Linked DNA regions of Homo sapiens: region 2 is linked to region 1. Evidence: fine-mapped QTL for protein levels in blood plasma. A gene starts in region 1. The other region holds a variant in brackets. All regions are shown on one strand. Distances are from middle to middle.

The links. PIP is the posterior inclusion probability: the model's chance that the variant is causal. Protein levels are from antibody-based Olink assays in UK Biobank. Linkage for the fine-mapping came from a reference panel and not from the study's own genotypes, which makes the PIPs less certain.
Region 2: its variant is fine-mapped to the plasma level of the AHNAK2 protein (UK Biobank, PIP above 0.99). The variant lies in the coding sequence of AHNAK2. If it changes the protein, the assay may bind it differently, which can mimic a change of level.

What each region holds. Positions count from the first base shown.
Region 1 is chr14:104,976,271-104,981,628 of GRCh38, reverse strand. It overlaps AHNAK2 (AHNAK nucleoprotein 2), which reads left to right and starts at 3,255. Exons shown (of 7, transcript NM_138420.4): 1 at 3,255-3,446. The coding sequence starts at 3,392. RefSeq lists a silencer at 3,112-3,271.
Region 2 is chr14:104,952,365-104,957,722 of GRCh38, reverse strand. AHNAK2 (AHNAK nucleoprotein 2) reads left to right here. Exons shown (of 7, transcript NM_138420.4): 2 at 51-109; 3 at 215-313; 4 at 1,034-1,135; 5 at 2,090-2,240; 6 at 2,582-2,766; 7 at 2,924-5,358. Among named protein-coding and RNA genes, the nearest start is that of AHNAK2, 23 kb to the left of the region's middle. RefSeq lists a cis regulatory region at 610 and an enhancer at 526-695. The variant C/G (reference allele first, on the strand shown) is at 2,160.

The sequences.
Region 1 (5,358 bases):
GGACAGACACCCCAAGGTGTCTTACTCATGACACTGTCAGCTTAACCCTCAAGCTAGGAGAAGACCCCCAGAAGGAGGGTGGGAGGGGCAGTCCCCAGCTCCCCGACAGTCACAACCAGACTGTGGCCCCAGCACTCAGGGCAGCGCAGAGCCAGAGGCCACTGCAGAGAGACACCAGCCCTCTGTCTCAGAGTGGGCAGGAGAAGGGAGGGACGGCCTCCGGGTGGAGCAGGCCCTGCCCAGACCCCATCCTGAATTCTGGGGCCACAGGGGAGCATGGCGCAGCTGCGTGTGTGTGTCTGTGCCCACCTTGGAAGTGGGCAGCCCCGTGCAGGGCAGAGGCAAAGTTCCTGGACCTGGGCAGCTGTGGTTGGTTCTGGGACCATTTCTTAGCCAGGGGAGGACAGGCCCAGTGGACACAGCTAGGGGAAGATCTCAGCCACCCCAGGCTGAGGGGCAGGACCAGGGCAAAGTCCTCCCAAGTGTGGGGTCCCCACACTCCCGTGACGCCACGCTGAACTTGCGCTCTCACTCGGCCCCCACCAAGATGGCCTGGAGGGTTCTCTCATCTTGCTGAAGGAAAACAGAGGCAGGGGCAGCAGGTAGTAGCCCAGGGACAGGGACATGTCGGGGGCAACCTCGGCTTCCCCACCCAGGGCTCCATCCTCACCCATCCCGCAAAGCCAAGGGGAGTCCCCGTAGCCCTGCGCAGATCACGCCAGACAATCAGGAGAGGGGCCACTTCATTTGGATGGGGACCCAGGAGGCCACATGACTTTGTCAAGGGCACACACCTAAAGGGGCTGAGGACACAAAGGTGGGTGAGTGCCCTGAGCGGCCCCTCGTTCCCAGGCCCTGCAGCCAGACTCAGACACAGAGGACTAGCGGGCGAAACCCCAGCAGACCAGGCAGAGGCATAGACACATCCAGGGACACACACAGAGGTGTATGCACCCAGGCACCCTAGTGGCTCTCTCCCTGTGTCCAGGGAGTGACTGACTCCAGGTGACCAGAGCAGGGTGGGCTCCTGGGGAGGGAGGTAAGTGCAGGGCCTCTGGACCCCAGGCAACACTGCTCAGCCCCGAAAAAAGGACACTGCGAGGGGGTGGGGTAAGACCTGCGCCAGGTCCCCACACGAGGGAGAAGGTTGTGCCCATCATGCCTGGGCTCACTGGCAGGAGGCTGCCAGGGCCTCTTCCCAGCAGTGGCTCTGGCGTCCATCTGACCTGCTGCTGGATGGCTGCCCGGTGGCTGCAGCGCGGCTAACGGGAACTGTCTAGGGTGAGTCATCGTGCCCGGGTGGCTCACCTGGGCCCGCTAGCTGTGCGTGGTCTCCAAATGAGCCCAGGAATGCGTGTGCCCCTGTGTGTATGTATACACGTGCATGGGTCTGTATCCTGGTGTGGGTGTTCATGCATGCAGGCCTGAGTGTATCAAATATCTCAGGTGGCCTGTGTCTGTGTCTTGGTGAGTTTGTGATCTTATCTATGAGTGTGTGTGTCTGCCTGGCCCTTCCGGTACAGCCTGGCCTCTTCCCACCCCAGGAAAAGGTGTCCGTGTGTGTGTGTGTGTGTGTGTGTGTATGACAGAGCATGTGTGTTTGTGTCTCTATGTGTATGTGTCTGTGTGTCTCTGTGTGTGTGTCTGTGTGTGTGTGAGTGTGCCTCTATGTGTACCTGTGTATCTCTGTGTCTGTGTCTCTGTCCATGTGTGTCTGTGTGTCTCTGTGTGTGTCTGTGTGTGCCTCTGTGTGTGTGTCTGTATGTGTACCTGTGTATCTGTGTGTCTGTGTCTCTGTCCGTGTGTGTCTGTGTGTCTCTGTGTCTTTATCTCTGTATGTATGTATGTGTGTGTGTATCCGTATGTGTGTCCGTGTGTGTGTGTGTCCCTGCATCTGACCCACACCCCTGGACATTGCCAGGCAGCTCCTCATGGAGGTGGCGGTCCTCTCCTGGGTCTCTTCCAGCCCTGCCTTCCCCGACAATCCCTGCAGAACTCCACTCCTTCTGGGGTATGCCCGGTTTGGGTCTACACCAGGCCAGGCGTCACCAAACTCTTAGAACTCCCTTGGGCCCCTGCCCTCCCTGTCCACACCCCCAGGTGTGCTGCCTCTGTGTGGTGCCCAAGCTAGATCCCAGGGAGGCTCCCACCCTCTGCACTCTGATCCTCACCAAGTCCCCTCTGCCTGCATATCCTTTCACTCCCTCCCATACCATGGCCGTGGTTCCACTGCTCCTGTTTCCAGCTGTGCCCCATGCCAACACCCCTAGCCACCTGCGCAGTCTTTCCTCAGCTCTCACCACGCTCAGAGACCCTGCTTGGAGCCTTAAGTGGCACCTCCTACCGACAGGAGCCCCCTCAGCCTCCTTGCTGCCCTGCCCCCGCCCACTGGGCCTGACTTTCAACCCCAGCCCTTTTGCCCCCATTCTCTGCACACACGCTACTCTGTCCCCTCTCTCCAGAACGCTTCCTACACTGCCTGGCACATGTCTCACCCCTAAGGTCCCAGCTTACACTGCCAGGAGCCCTCCAGGACCTCCGTTCCCCCGCCCCCAGGGCAGTGCCGCCCTGCAGAACGCCTCATCCTTACAGGCTTGCTTGTGTCTACGCCAGACCTGGAGCCCCTGGGGCAGGGCCAGTGGGGTGCTGGTTGCCGCTGTGTCCTAGGCCCTAGGCTCTTGACAAGAATCAGCAGAAAGGATGACTCTGGGCGGGGTTCTGGCTCCAGGACTGCCCCCAGCGCTGGGCGCTCCCGCACGCGGCGCCCACCCCGCAGCCCTGCCCGGGGCGCCCTGTTCCCGCTGCACGCTCTCAGCCGCGTCCTCGTATCTGCCACCCACCAGCCCCTGCAGAATTCTATCTTGTCCTTATGCTGCCAGATCACCTCCTGCGGTGCCCGCGACCCCTGTTGTCCCCGCAGGCTGCCCCCCACCCCAGCTTCTGACTAAAGTGTCTGTCTCCCCCGGAATGGGAGGTGAAGACAGCGGCAAGTCCAGGAGCCTCGGTGCGGGGATCCAGAGGTCGCTCCCTGGCGGGAGTCCAAAGTTAATTCTGCGGACGCGACAGGCGGGCCGGGGGCGCGGGGTGGGGCGGGGCCTGGCTGGGAGGGGCGGGGCCGCGGCGACGGCAGCCAATGGGCTGAATGAGGCCGACGGCACCGCCCGCGAGCGCGCTCCGCAGTGGCCCGGCAGGGCTGGGCGGAGCCGGGCGGGGTCCTAGCTGAGCGGCTGGGTAGCCTGGCGCGCGGTGTCCGCAGTCCGAGGTCGGCCGCCCGCGGCAGCGCAGGGCAGCGGGGCAGAGCGCGGCTCCCGCCCGCCCGCCCCGTGCGCCGGAGCCGGGACCAGCGACTGGACGCGACGGGCCGCCAGGCCCGCACCGCCTGGCCGCCGCGATGTGCGACTGCTTCCACATGGTGCTGCCCACCTGGCCCGGAACCCCCGGCAGCGGTGCGCCCCTCCCCGCCTGCAGCCCGCTCCCCTGGGGCGGGTGGGCTACGCGCGAGGGCGCGCGCCGGGGCGTGTCCAGGGGCGCGCAGTGCGGGCCTTGGGGGCGGGGGACTCGGAGACGCCTGCGGGACTCGCGCGTGGTTCTGGGCCTTCCCGGCCGCTGGAGTCTCTTCTCCCATGCCTCGCGTTCTACCTGTCCGTGGCTGTAGGTTCCTGCTCCTCTCCCGGCCTCTGAGACTGTCTCTGTCGCTCACTTTGTTTCTCGGTGGCTGACTCGTCTCTGTCGCTCACTCCCTCTGTCACTCGCGGTCCCTGTCTGTCTCTCCTTCTCGCTCCTGCCCCGCTCCTGGGACGCTGTCTGGTCGAGAGGCGGCCTCCTGGGAGGTGCTACCGCACTCTGGAGCAGGGCTGGTGTCTGCAAGGGGCGTGAAAGCCGGGGCCGCCGGGACCCGGGGCACCTGCACCAGGCTTGCCCTCTCACCTGCTTTGCGGGAGAGCAGCCAGGCTGGTCCAGGAGTCTGGGCTCTCCACTTTGGTCCGGGGCTTCCAGGCAGGGCTGGGCTGCGTCTACTGTGTGGCTGTGTGGTGGGGTCGCTGGCTAGGTGGAGGCTGTGGCAGGGCTAGGCCTGAGGTCTGGGGCCTGGTGAGGGGCCTGAATGGGGTCAAAGTCAGGCCACAGGGTCCCGCAGTGCTGGGCAAGGGAAAGTGGGTGCTACCTACTGGCATGCCCCCAGGGATGGTCAGTAGCCTCCCTCTGAGCCGCAGGCTACGGCATGTGTACCTGCTGCTCTTTGTGTGTCTGTCCCTGCACTGGGCCTGGTTCCGGGGCCTGGGTGTCTCAGCATCTTGGAGGGCAGGGCTGAGGGGGGCAGGGCAGTCCCTTGGGCGCTGGGTCTATGCTGCTGCAGCTGACCACACCCAGGGCATTGGCAGCCACTGGCCAGGGGGTTGGGCTGGCCGGCACTGGTGCAGGCTGGACCCCACTCCTTGGGGAAAACAGGTCAATGCTAATGGTGCCGACAATGCTGCAGGTGAGAGGGGTGCCCCTGGCCTGGGCATGCCCCCCAGCTGCAGCAGGCACTACCAAGGCCCCTCCTGTGGCCTGTCTGTCTGGTGCGCACTTAGGGTGGGAGGCTTGTCTGGGGGGCTCCAGAGCAGGGAGGCCCCTACAGCACCTGCTTCACGGTGTCGCAGATGGGAGCCCAAGGTGTTTGGGCACAGCAGCGGGAGGATGATGGCTCCGGTGGGCTGGAGGCCCCTGGCCCCCTCCTCTTTCACTATGACTGGCCCTGCCCACATGGCTGCAGGTCGACCTCCTCAGAGGGAGAAGGGCAGGGCCCCCAGGCATGGGACCACTACCCTGCCCCCAGCTTCCCTGCACAGCCTTTCTGCTCTGCTTCCTCCTCACTCACGGGCACCCAGAGACTCCCAAGCTGCAGGGTCCAGGACCATCTCATCCACCCCCTGCCTCCACAGAGGCTTGTGCTGGCTTCATGGTTCCCAGCCCGTCTGGGGCAGTCCCTCCCTGTGTCCAGCCTACGGAACCATCCGCTCTTAGGGAATAAGGTCAGTGGCTCTCGCTGGAGCTTTGGTAGGAGACTTGCAAGATCAGAGACCTTGGGAGTTCTGTCCAGCACACCGGTTCCCAGACCCTCCCCAACCCTGCGGCCCAGGAACGTGCATTCCTGACAAGCACCCTGCCAACTACTGCCTTTCCCAGCCTGGATTTGGTCCAGGCCTTTTCCACCTGCAGTTTCCTCTCAGCAGGCTGGAGATGGGCGGACTCTCCCCTGCTCTCGTCTTCCTGTCCAGTCCAAACCTGCCCTCTGCCCGACACACCAGGCACCAGCCCAGCAGGGAGCCATCTCCTGGGCGGCTTTTGTGCCGAGGCTGCCCCCTGGTGGCCATGCTG
Region 2 (5,358 bases), 24 kb after region 1:
ATCTGCTCCCCCAGCCTGCTTGTCTCCACTGACAGCCACTCTCTCTGCAGTGTCCGGCCGTCAGCTGCAGCCCGGGGAGCCAGGTGCAGAAACGGAAGATGACCACTCTGTAAGTGAGAGCAGGAGGAAGTGTGTCCTCCTCATACCCTGCCCCCATTCTCCCTGGGCCCTGGGAGAACCGAGTGGCAAAAATAACTGGATTCTCTCCCGTCAGGTGACTGAAGGGCCTGCGGATGAGGGCATTCGACCACGGCCGCAGGGGTCTTCACCTGTCTACGAATACACGACTGAGGCTGCCGACTTTGGACTCCAGGTGAGCCTGCTGGGCAGAGCCCCACAGGCACCCAGGTCTCCTCCTGCATCGCCCTGTGTGGGCAACTCACGCATGTCTGTTCAACCTTGCTGCCCTGCCCCGCTGCCCACTGGGCAGTGCCCACTCAGATGTCCTCTCAGACTCCTCTGTGCCCTTGGGTCCCTCCCTGTGGCCGGCCAGGGCACAGTGGGATGGAGGTGCCCTGCAGCTCTTGTGAGCATGCGTATGGGCTGATGGGGACAGGCCTCATGTTACTGTGTTTGTGTTTCAGGGGCACAGGGTGTGTGCATCCCTGCACCTGTGTAACACACTCATGCTGTCTTTGGGGACAGGGCCCCATGGCTACCTCTGGAGACAAGGACTCGGGGAAGGGATCAGAGGAGGCATGTCTATGAAAGGATTCATTTTTGTACAATTTGAATTTCTTATCTCCCTCCATACAAAACTCCAGTTGCTGTGGGGCTTCCCTATGGGCGCTGTGGGCTGTAGGGTGGGTGCTGTGGGCTGTAGGCTGGGCCCTGTCGGGAAGCAGGAAGGCCGAGAGTTGCCTTTTCTCTGTGGATGTGCCTGGAGGAACTCGGCTGCCTCTGCACACAGCTGTGTGTTGGAAGTTCTGGGCCCCTCTGAAGGGAGGGCTCCTGGTCTGGCACCAGCCTACCTGTGCCCCTCCCTGTCCCTGAGCTGGGGCAGGTGCCTAACTCCCAACACTTGTGGCTGCAGGAAGACGCCCCCGGCAGGCAAGGTTCTGCTGGGAGACGGAGATCCTGGTGGAAGCGAGATTCAGGGGACTCACGGACATTTTTCAGGATGAGTCGTCCAGAGGTGGGTACAGCAGGAGCTGAGGGTCACAGAGGTGTGTCGGTCCTCAAGGGATCCAGCCAGAGAGTCCGAGGTCAGAGCAGGCAGGGGAGGAGCAAAGAGGCTGGCAGTGTGCCCCGTGCCCTGGGGAGGAGGGGTGTTCTTGTCCCCCTTGTCAGGCCTGGGGAAGGGCAGGGGCTCCAGAAGGCTACATCTGGTCCTGGCCCTCTCCACCCCTCCCTGGGGTGGAGTCTGATGCATAGCCAAGCTCCTGGCCAGGTAGACCTGGCTGTACAGACCTCGATTTTCTCCTCCGTGCAATGGGGCAGTGCTGGTGTCTGTTGCATATTCAAGCTGTGGGGCTGAAAAGGCCAGTCAGCACCCAGGCCATGGAACTATGGAAGGTGCTAGACTCTGCTAGCACCCAATGATGAGGGCACTCTGCCTCTTAAGCAACTAGTTTTTTTCCTTGGAGGCCCCAGCAGTCCAAGAGCTCTGCAGGACACAGGCCCCATCCTGTCCCAGGTCTCGCAGGCTGCACCCAATGTCCCGTATTTTCCTTGGCATTGCTGTGCTTCCTTGTCTTGAGCATCAGGTGCCTTGCACACAACTGGTGCTTCACGCGTTTGTGAAGAATGCATGAAGGAGCTGAAAAAGAGAAACTGGCCACAGGGAAAGCAGAATCCGTTCTGCGCTGCTCCTGGTGCCCTGCTGGGCCTGGTGGCATGGACAGGCTGTGCCTAAGTCCTGGCAGGTTGGGGTGGGGACAAGAGTTCTGGCAGGTTCCAGCTGGCTTCCTCCAGAGCTCAGAGACAGCTACCTGAGCCCACCTGGTGGGTACCCTACTCTGCTCTGTGTTGTCTGGGCTGATGGAAAGGATGGTGGGGTGCCCATCCTCTGGAGACACAGGCCCCAGCAGGGATGCTTATGGTGGGACTGGCACATGCTCACCATGGCCCTGATGTGCTTCTGCTCCAGGCTGTCCAGGAGGCAACAGAGGTGACGCTGAAGACAGAGGTGGAGGCAGGAGCCAGTGGCTACAGTGTCA[C/G]AGGTGGTGGGGACCAGGGGATCTTCGTCAAGCAAGTGCTGAAGGACTCCTCAGCCGCCAAGCTTTTTAACTTGAGAGAAGGTGCCATGGCAGTTCCATCCCTGGGGTCACCATTCTCCCCACCAGGATGGGAGGGACCTGGAGGGGGGTATTGAGGGGTAAGAACCACACCTGGAGCTTAGGATGACCTCCTCACGCCTCTGCTCAACAGCTTGAGGCTGGGATCACCCACTGCATCTAGTAAAATGGGGGACCCCATCCACCTTGCCTGTGCCTGAGGCACTCAGTGGGGGACTGGTGGGGCAGACTCAGTGGGATTCCCCCTATTCATGTCCCCGGGACCCTCCTCGCCAGCCAAGGCAAGACAGCAGACCCCGTCTCATTCACACACCCGGCCCTGGGGCTGCTCTTTCTTGGTCTAGGGGATCAGCTGCTCAGTACAACCGTGTTCTTTGAAAACATAAAATATGAAGATGCTCTCAAAATCCTTCAATATTCAGAGCCGTACAAGGTTCAGTTCAAAATCAGACGGCAGCTCCCTGCCCCACAGGATGAAGAGTGGGCTTCCAGCGATGCCCAGCACGGCCCACAGGGCAAGGAGAAGGAGGTGAGACCACTATGCCCGGGGGGCAGGGCCCCAGCTGGCTTCACTACCCTGCTGGCTGAGCCTGGGAGGGGATAGCACTCCCACTCCATCTGTCCCTGGGCCAGGGCCCCAGGCTTCTTGGACTGGCACCAACAGATTCCCTCTCCCTATGTTTCAGGACACGGATGTTGCTGATGGGTGCAGAGAGACCCCCACGAAAACTCTGGAAGGAGATGGGGACCAAGAGAGACTCATCTCCAAACCAAGGGTGGGGAGAGGCAGGCAGAGCCAGAGGGAGAGGCTCTCTTGGCCAAAATTTCAATCCATAAAGAGCAAGCGGGGGCCGGGACCCCAGAGGTCACACAGCTCGTCAGAGGCCTACGAACCTAGGGACGCACATGACGTGTCCCCTACAAGCACAGACACAGAGGCCCAGCTCACGGTGGAGCGCCAAGAGCAGAAGGCAGGGCCGGGCAGCCAGAGGAGGCGGAAGTTCCTCAACCTCAGATTCAGGACAGGCTCGGGACAGGGCCCTTCATCGACAGGACAGCCAGGCAGGGGGTTCCAGAGTGGGGTGGGCCGTGCTGGGGTCCTGGAAGAGTTGGGGCCCTGGGGTGATAGCCTCGAGGAGACTGGGGCTGCCACAGGCAGCAGGAGAGAGGAGAGGGCAGAACAGGATCGAGAAGTGATGCCTGCTCAGAGCATGCCATTGCCCACAGAGCTCGGTGACCCTAGACTTTGCGAGGGAACCCCTCAGGAAGGGGGACTCAGGGCAGCCAGGCTCCATGGAAAGACCCTGGAGGGGCAGGCACAGGAGACAGCAGTGGCCCAGAGGAAGCCCAGGGCCCAGCCAACTCCTGGAATGAGCCGGGAGGGTGAAGGCGAGGGACTGCAGAGCCTGGAAATCGGGATCGCCAGACTGTCCTTGAGAGACACAACCGAAGGAGGCACACAGATTGGCCCACCAGAAATTAGGGTGCGAGTACACGATTTAAAGACACCAAAATTTGCATTTTCCACAGAAAAAGAGCCAGAAAGAGAAAGGCGCCTTAGTACCCCACAGCGAGGGAAGAGACAGGATGCGTCCTCAAAAGCGGGTACTGGCCTGAAGGGTGAGGAGGTGGAAGGAGCCGGGTGGATGCCGGGCAGGGAACCAACCACACATGCAGAAGCACAGGGGGATGAAGGAGATGGAGAGGAAGGACTACAGAGGACAAGGATCACTGAGGAACAGGACAAGGGCAGGGAAGACACAGAAGGACAGATAAGAATGCCCAAGTTCAAGATACCCTCCTTAGGATGGTCGCCAAGCAAGCACACAAAGACAGGCAGAGAAAAAGCCACAGAAGACACAGAGCAGGGAAGGGAAGGAGAGGCCACAGCAACAGCTGATAGAAGAGAACAGAGACGCACAGAGGAAGGATTAAAAGACAAAGAAGACAGTGACTCAATGACAAACACAACAAAAATACAACTAATACACGATGAAAAACGCTTAAAAAAGGAACAAATTCTGACAGAAAAGGAAGTGGCCACCAAAGACAGCAAGTTCAAAATGCCCAAGTTCAAGATGCCATTGTTCGGGGCGTCAGCCCCAGGCAAGTCCATGGAGGCCTCGGTGGATGTGTCTGCGCCGAAGGTGGAGGCCGACGTGAGCCTCCTCTCCATGCAGGGGGACCTCAAGACCACTGACCTCAGCGTCCAGACCCCTTCCGCTGACCTGGAGGTCCAGGATGGCCAAGTGGATGTGAAACTTCCGGAGGGCCCCCTGCCCGAGGGAGCCAGCCTCAAAGGGCACCTGCCCAAGGTGCAGAGGCCCAGTTTGAAGATGCCCAAAGTGGACCTCAAGGGCCCCAAGCTGGACCTGAAAGGCCCCAAGGCGGAAGTGACAGCCCCCGATGTGAAGATGTCTCTGTCCAGCATGGAGGTGGACGTCCAGGCCCCGAGAGCAAAGCTGGATGGTGCGCGGCTGGAGGGGGACCTGTCCCTGGCCGACAAGGAGGTGACTGCCAAAGACAGCAAGTTCAAAATGCCCAAGTTCAAGATGCCATCATTCGGGGTGTCGGCCCCAGGCAAGTCCATGGAGGACTCGGTGGATGTGTCTGCGCCGAAGGTGGAGGCCGACGTGAGCCTCTCCTCCATGCAGGGGGACCTCAAGGCCACTGACCTCAGCATTCAGCCCCCTTCCGCTGACCTGGAGGTCCAGGCTGGCCAAGTGGATGTGAAACTTCCGGAGGGCCCTGTGCCCGAGGGAGCCGGCCCCAAAGTGCACCTGCCCAAAGTGGAGATGCCCAGTTTCAAGATGCCCAAAGTGGACCTCAAGGGCCCCCAGATAGATGTTAAGGGCCCCAAGCTGGACCTGAAAGGCCCCAAGGCGGAAGTGACAGCCCCCGATGGCGAGGTGTCTCTGCCCAGCATGGAGGTGGATGTCCAGGCCCAGAAGGCCAAGCTGGATGGTGCGTGGCTGGAGGGGGACCTGTCCCTGGCCGACAAGGACGTGACTGCCAAAGACAGCAAGTTCAAAATGCCCAAGTTCAAGATGCCGTCGTTCGGGGTATCGGCCCCAGGGAAGTCCATCAAGGCCTTGGTGGATGTGTCTGCACCCAAGGTGGA